2 linked regions of the Homo sapiens genome follow. The protein of the gene in region 1 interacts with the protein of each later gene in a pairwise test. Each region holds a gene or a part of one and is shown on either strand. Other genes may lie near its edges.

Region 1 (3,500 bases):
AATGTTTGTGAGACGCACAGAGAAATGAATGAATGAATGAATAAACGAATGAATGAATGAACGAATGAATGAATGGACAAATGAATGAATGAATGAACGAATGAATGAATAAATGAATGAATAAAAGAATGAATGAATCAGTGAATAAACAAATGAATGAATGAATGAATGACTCCCTTCCCGGGCAGAAAGGGACAAGGCAGTCAGCCCTGCATTCTTCCCCCAATGAGGAATGTGGATGATGGAAGGTCAGGCCAGGACTGACAGCCAGGTCCCAGCCCCTTTGAACCCCTTGGTTTCTGCCTCAAAGGTAGGGACTTCCTGCCACCTCTGTCCTGACCCCATCCCCCACTGGTGTGTGTCCCACTCTGGCCCATGCAAGGGCAGCCTCATGCAGGCATCTTATTCCAGCAGAATCACGTGGGTTTCATGCATCCAGTCCCCCAGGGGCACTGCCACTAGGAAACGAGGGGCTTCATTTCCTGCCACACAGCGGGTGGGACAGACCCAGTCCCCAGCATTGCCCAGAAGCCATGGACCGCCAGCCGACCTCCAGCTCCCCTCAAGGCCCCATGGCTCAGGCCAGCCCTGGGGGGATGGAGTCCTCAATGCAGGCCAGCCCACCATTCACTTACCTGGTGGACCAGGGGGACCCCGGGGTCCTGGGACACCTGCCAGCACTGTGTCCACGATGGCAGAGGCCAGCCTTGAGTCTCCATCTGTGGGAAGAGCGGAGCGGCCAGGGGTCTGGTGGGGCAGACCTGGCAGTGCTGGGAGGCTGGTCCGGGGCACTGAGCCCTGAGCCAGGCCACACGAAGCCCAGGGGGGCTCCTCCCATCACCCTGGGGCCCGCTGCAGATACTGTTGCCCCCACTGCTCAGAGGAGCACGGAGAGGCCCAGACAAAGAGCAGGGAAAGCCAGGTCGGTCAGCTTCATATAAAACATAAATACCTTCTAGAACATTCCAGGCTCTTCAGACTCTGGGTCTGCCCTGCTCACTTCTCCAATGCCCCAGGCTGGCATCTTCTTCCAGGCTCCATCCCACAGGCCCATCCTGCTGCACCCAACTGGCTCACTCCTCCAGGAAGCCCTCCATGCCCACCCCTCTGAGCTGTGCCTGGGGAGTCTGATTACATCATGGCGACCACACTGCCTGGAGCAGGGGTGGAGTCTGTTTAACAACCCATCTCCCATGGCCCTCCAGGATGAGCCCCTCACCTGATTCACCCTGGCCAATCCTGAACCAGACCCAGGGCCCCAGGGCAATGCCATCACCTTCCTCATAAAACCCTTCCCCAGGCTGGGCACAGTGGCTCACACCTGTACTCCCAGCACTTTGGGAGGCTGAGGAGGGAGGATCACTTGAGGCCAGGAGTTCAAGACCAGCCTGCCCAACATAGTGAGACCACATCTCCAGACCAGCCTGGGCAACATTGTGAGACCCCATCTCCACTCAAAAAAAAAAAAAAAAATTAGTTAGATGTGGCGATACATGCCTAGGGTCCTAGCTACTCAGGAGGCTGAGGTGGGAGGATCCCTTGAGCCCAGGAGTGAGAGGCTGCAGGGAGCTATGATGGCGCCACTGCATTCCAGCCTGGGCAACAGACCCTATGTCAAAAAAAATTAAAGTAAAAATCTTCCCCAGTTGCCGGGACACTTAACCAGAAATGATGCTCCTCTCAGGGCTCACGGACTCCTCTGCCTGGCCTCCCACTACCTCATGGTCCCTTAGGCCCAGAGTCCTGGTCCCGTCCACTCTCTGCACCTCCTTGTCCCCACCTCCCAAGGTAGAAGTGGACATTTCTGTGTGTTCAGAGGCTCTCTTGGACTGGCCGGTGCCCCCGAGGGCCGGAGTTTGTTTTGCACATTGCTGTGTCCCCAGTGGCTAAAATCCTGTGCCTTGCACATAGTAGGTGCTCACTAAACACCTGCTGAATGACCTGCAGTGAGGGCGGGTGAGGAACAAGTACAATAAGGGATAACCTTGGTGGGGTGGGGTAGCCAGGTAGGGAATCTGGGCCAAGTCAGCCAGCAGAGTGAACTTTGGGGCTCACAACCCCAAAGGCAGGGAGCTGAGCACTGAGGCAGAGACAGGCCACTTTGGGGCCAAAAGCAGGGCTTGGGGCTAGCCCTGGGTCCACTTGAGGATGCTTAGCCCCAGGACCAAGCCTTGCTCCCAAGCTGTTCCCTGTCATCGTCACTGGCAGGCCCTGGACACTGCATGGAGGGCTTCCTGGAGGAGGCCTGCAGGAGTGAGCCAGTTGGGTGCAGCAGGATGGGCATGTGGTGGGGTCCACTTCCCAGGATCCTTTAAGGAAGGCTGATCCCTCCCAGAACACAGCGTAGCTCAGCCCTCCCTTGGCCCCCCAGGGGCATTACTCACTGTCTTTGTCTGTAGGCGGCTGCAGGGAGTAGAGGGCGCCCTGGGGGCTGTTTGGTGAGGGGCCTGGGTTGCCTGCTGGGCCGGGTGGTCCTGGGGGGCCGGGGCGCCCCATCTCTCCAGGAAGCCCACGGGGCCCTGGAGGCCCCAGGAGCCCTGCAATGAGGAAAAGAACAGTCACTGTGGCAGCCGGAGCCTGGCGGGTGGCTGCAACTTACAAATGGGGAAACTGAGGCCTTGAAAGAAACAGGGTTGGTCAGGGGCCCACAGGCAGTCAGTGGTGACCTCCGATCCACAGTCTTCCTTGGGGGTGTCCTGGGGTGTAAATGAAATGGGCTTCCCTTCCCAGCCCAGTCCAGAGGGGACACTTAGTGGCAGCTTGGGAGGGTGAGGGGGGCAGGGACGGTGAAATCAGCAAAGGCTCTGGCCAGAGGCCCATTGGTCCCTCCCAGGGACTTCAGCCCTGTGGCAGGAACACCAAGTATAAGCCACCATCCTGGGCTGGCCCTGTACCTGCTGAACCAGGGGTCCTTCCCCGGCAGGACCCAGGAGGAGTTGAGAGGGTGGTCTCTGGAGGTGTTTAAATGGCTGAGAACTGCTCCTGGCCCCTGACAGCCTCGATGCTCATGCCTGTACCCGAAGCCCCTGAAGACCCTGTTTTGGCCAGGTGTTGTGGCTCACCCCTGTAATCCCAGCACTTTGGGAGGCCAAGGCAGGCAGGTCACCTGAGGTCAGGAGTTCAAGACCAGCCTGGCCAACATGGTGAAACCCTGTCTCTACTAAAAATACAAAAATTAGCCAGGCATGGTGGCAGGCACCTGTAATCCTAGTTACTCAGTAGGCTGAGGCAGGACAGTTGCTTGAACCTGGGAGGTGGAGGTGTCAGTGAGCTGAGATTGTGCCACCGTGCTCCAGTCTGGGCGACACAGCACAAGACTCCATCTCAAAAAAAAAAAAAAAAAAAAGCCAGGTGAGGTGGTGGCTCACGCCTGTAATCCCAGCACTTTGGGAGGCCAAGGTGGGTGGATCATCTGAGGTCAGGAGTTCGAGACCAGCCTGACCAACATGGTGAAATCCTGTCTCTATTGAAAATACAAAATTAGCCAGGTGTGGTGGCGC
Region 2 (4,137 bases), about 49 Mb from region 1:
GGGCTCATCATTAGACCAGGGGGAAAGTGGGGTATGGTGCTATGAGGCGGGGAGGGATCCCTGGGGGGCCCCCGGGCTGACCTACTGAGAAACAGGGTCTATTACACTGAAGAGCTTAGACCCGTCTTGCAAGGTGTTGTTTACCTTAGGCTATTGCTTCACAATCTTCAACCCTCGCAGGCCCGTCAGGTAGATCTGGGATTTTGTGTCATCACTGGTACAACAGTGACACCACCATGTTCTCTTCCACAGAAGTACTTTAGGATGACAGTGCAGCTGGCACTGTTGAGAGCCAACCTTGAATCCAAATGAATCTAAAACGTAAATTTTAAAAAGAAAGTCATTGATAAATTTCAGTACTTTATAACTAAGAAGTTACTTGTGGCCAGGTGTGGTGGCTCACGCCTGTAATCCTAGCACTTTGGGAAGCCAAGGTGGGTGGACTGCTTTGAACTCAGGGGGTTGAGACCAGCTTGGGCAAGATGGCGAAACCTTGTCTTTACAAAAAAAATACAAAAAAATCAGCCAGCTGTGATGGCCTGTGCCTGTGGTCCCAGCTTCTTGGCAGTCTGAGGCAGGAAGATGGCTTGAGCAGGGAAGTGGAGATTGCAGTGAGCCGTGATTGCACCACTGCATTCCAGCCTGAGCAACAGAGCCAGACCCTGTCTCAAAAAAAAGAAGTTACTTGTGACACACATCACCACAGCTGACAACACATTGGAGGCCTACAACCACAACAAGACAAGATTCCAAGGGCTTCTAAGCTGAAGCACGGCCTTTTGGGCTGCACGCCTGCCCATAGTCGATCATGTGGGCAGCAGTCAGGAAAGCGCCCTAGCCAGGCCACATGGGAAGCAGGCACATCCCTGGGAGGCAAAAGGGAAAGCGGGCCAGGCCGGGGTGACGGCAGGGCGGGGTGATGGCACAATGCATGGAGGAGACTGTGGGGAGAGCTGTTCAGGAGGTGGCCCATGCCTAAGCCTCAAGTGGAAGAGGAGGAATGATGGAGAGCGCCTCCACAGTGAGCCTCTTTCCTCATACAGGTCCATGTGGGCTATTTTGGGGCAAATCTTCAGGCAAGTTTCTAGAGAAACTGAAGGAAAACACCAGAGGGGGCTGCCCAGGTAATGCTGACAATACAGGGAGGTGAGAGGATGAGCAGATCTCAAAGGTGACTGAGAGGCAGAGGGGAGAGACAAGGAAAAACCAAAGTAAAGTGAAGTTAGGGAAACCAAGAAAAGACTTTCCAAAAGCAGTGGTCAGCGGGGTCAAAGGTCCCTTCAGTGGGCGGTACAGCAGGAAGTGGGGGAGAAGCAGGAACCGGGAATGCTGGAGGTGGGGATGGGAGGGAAAAGGCTTGGCTCTGTCCCTAAACAGAGAGAAGGTGACCTGGGAAGAGCGGGGAGGCTAACTACACAGGGAAGAGAAGCTTCCTGGAGAAAGGGATCCAGGGCACAGGCGGTGGAAGGGATTGGCCTCAAGAGACCAGGAAGAACTCTCATTTTTCCTGACAGAGAAAGTAGGATGGGTCTGGTAGCAGGCAAGTCCTGGAGTGCTGTGCAGAAGGGAAGTGAGGCAGCTTATGCCTGAGAGCCAGGCATGTTGATTGCTCACGGGGAGCCGTACATCTGTAAAGGCAGCCAGCGGCTGGCTGAGTGATCTGGCTTAGCCTGGGCTGGGAAGCACCTCCGCACACTGGCTCAAGAAATTAGACCTATTCTTCTCGCTGCTCTCACCAAGCCTTTTCCCAAGTGCGTGCCCAGAAGGAAAGCGGCCACTCTTCTACTTCTCTTGTGCCTGCAAGAGAAGTAGAACCCCACCCTGGGCATTCCATGATTATGCCAGGCCTTTCTCACTCCGCCCAGTCCCTCTCCAGCCCCTCTGCTCTCAACTCCAGCACTGCAGGGGGACAGAGTGTCTACTCCACCCCCACCAGGCAGGGGATTTTAAGCACCTGCTGGGCCCTCAAGTCTCATCTTCCTCCACAACATCTGTGAGAAGATTGAAAGGTGGTGAGAGAAAGGGATAGGAGGAGATGAACGTGTGAAAGGAAAAGAGGAGAGCAAGCCATTGCATGTTTTGGGGTTTTGTCCCACACGCAAATTTGACTACTTATAAAGTCTAAGCAAGATGTTTTAAATAATAATCATGCATCATTAGGTTTCATACTGTGCAAAAAAAATGACACAAAGTGAGATCTGTTACAAACGACACGGCAGCACTCTGCTACTTTCTGGAAGCTTAGGGCTAACAATGGAGTCAGAGCATGGCATCCAGAGCCCGTCTCTGAGCACGGCCGTGATCCTGCTCCAGCACACGCCTCGGTTTCCTCGTCTACATTACGGGAATAGTAACAGCACCCGCCTCATGAGATTGTTAGTGTTAAACGAGTTAATTAATACCACAGTATTTCAGGGCAGTTCTCGGCACAGAGGGAGAGATGGGTAAGGGCTGGCTGTTCCGGAAGATTCTGGCCTCTCCCAGTGTGTTTCGGCGCGAGGGCACCGCTGGCCCAGCAGGTGGCCCCCCGGGGCCGGCACGGGCCCCGACAGCCGCCCCCTTCCCTGAACCTCGGCGGCCCAGTCCCCGCTTACCTGAGGGGTGGAGCCGGCAGCCTGCGGAGCCACTGGCCAAGCTGGGAAGTCCGGCGCAACTCCGCACCGCAGAGCCGGCGCCTCCTCGGCAGGTAAGAGCCGCAGCCCCGCCGCCCGCCGCCTGGCGGCCCCTGACCCCTGGGCCGCGTGCCCACCACCCAACTTGTTGGCCAGCGTGCTTCTCCCAGCGCCGCAGGCCTGAGCTCCCGGAACGCGCCCAGGGGGCCTGGCCAAAGGCCGTAGTGGGCGCTCTGGATTCCGGGATGCGCCAGGGGTTACTTCCGGAAGCGCAGCCTGCGGGGGTCTTCGCGCGCACCCCCCGCCTCGCAGTTGGTACGTTCCTCCTACCTGCGGTGCCTGAGTGCGCAGGCGTGGGCAGCGAGGCGGTGCGGCCGGAAGCGAAGGGGCCGTGAGGTCAACAGTCGGTAATCGTTTATCGGTGCGGCCTTAGAGAAAGGACCTCCAAGCCCTTGTTCAATACATGTTGGGTGGTGGTCACAGGTGCCAGTCTCCGGACGGATGGCGGCCTAGATTTCCTCCCGGACTCGGTGGCACCCAAGGCCCCCTGCACGCCGGCGCTGTGCGTGCCAGGCTGACCGCCCGAGTGCGACCCGGACCTCGTCCGCACGTGCAGATGGAAGGGGCCACAAAGACGATAAGGATCCAGGTCTCCCGCGTGGAAGGCTCATCTATCGGTCGGTTCAGGAAATCCACCCAGGGTGTCTCCTGGTGTTATCAGAAAGGGGTCCCGATCCAGGCCCTAAGAGAGGGTTCTTGGATCTCATGCAAGAAAGAATTCAGGGCAAGCCCATAGAGTAAAGTGAAAACAAGTTTATTAAGAAAGCAAAGAAGTAAAAGGATGGCTACTCCATAGGCAGAGCAGCTCCAGGGCTACTGGTTACCCATTTTTTGGTTATTTCTTGATTATATGCTAAACAAGGGTTGAATTATTCATGAGTTTCAGAGAAAGGGGTGGGCAGTTCCCGGAACTGAGGCTTCCTCCCCTTTTTAGACCATATAGAGTATTTCATGATGGTGTCATGGCGTCTGTAAACTGTCATGGTGCTTGCTGGTGGGAGTGTCTTTTAGCATGCTAATGCATTATAATTAGTGCATAATGAGCAGTGAGGACCACCAGAGGTCCCTCCCATTGCCATATTGGTTTTGGTGGCGTTTAGCCAGCTTCTTTACTGCAACCTGTTTTATCAGCAAGGTCTGTATGACCTGTATCTTGTGCCAACCTTCTGTCTCATCCTGTGACTTAGAATGCCTAACCTCCTATGAATGCAGCCTCATTTTACCCAGCCCTTATTCAAGATGGAGTAATTCTGGCTTAAACACCTCTGACACTGGGGCAAATGCCTGCTGCCTGATGACTCCCACAAGTCCTTAACACCTAACCCAGAGAACATCTGGGCCTGCATCCACTCTGGTGCTCTGCCACTCCTGCAGCTACAAATTGTGTGGGAGCCGAAGAAGTCATGTTCCCTGGACGAGCACAAAATGCCTGTTTGTCCCATGTTGGTTCCACATGTGCACCAAA

Evidence for each region. Proteins that work in one complex are often made in the same cells at the same time.
Region 2: the proteins of COL26A1 (region 1) and LRRC61 interact in binary tests that used the Homo sapiens proteins (3 or more experiments, as listed by UniProt).

What each region holds. Positions count from the first base shown.
Region 1 is NC_000007.14:101,544,375-101,547,874, reverse strand, and holds part of COL26A1 (collagen alpha-1(XXVI) chain isoform 1 precursor), read right to left. Parts: intron 2,538-3,500; coding exon 2,385-2,537; intron 720-2,384; coding exon 636-719; intron 1-635.
Region 2 is NC_000007.14:150,322,018-150,326,154, reverse strand, and holds the start of LRRC61 (leucine-rich repeat-containing protein 61), read right to left. Parts: upstream 2,801-4,137; 5' UTR 2,595-2,800; intron 315-2,594; 5' UTR 145-314; intron 1-144.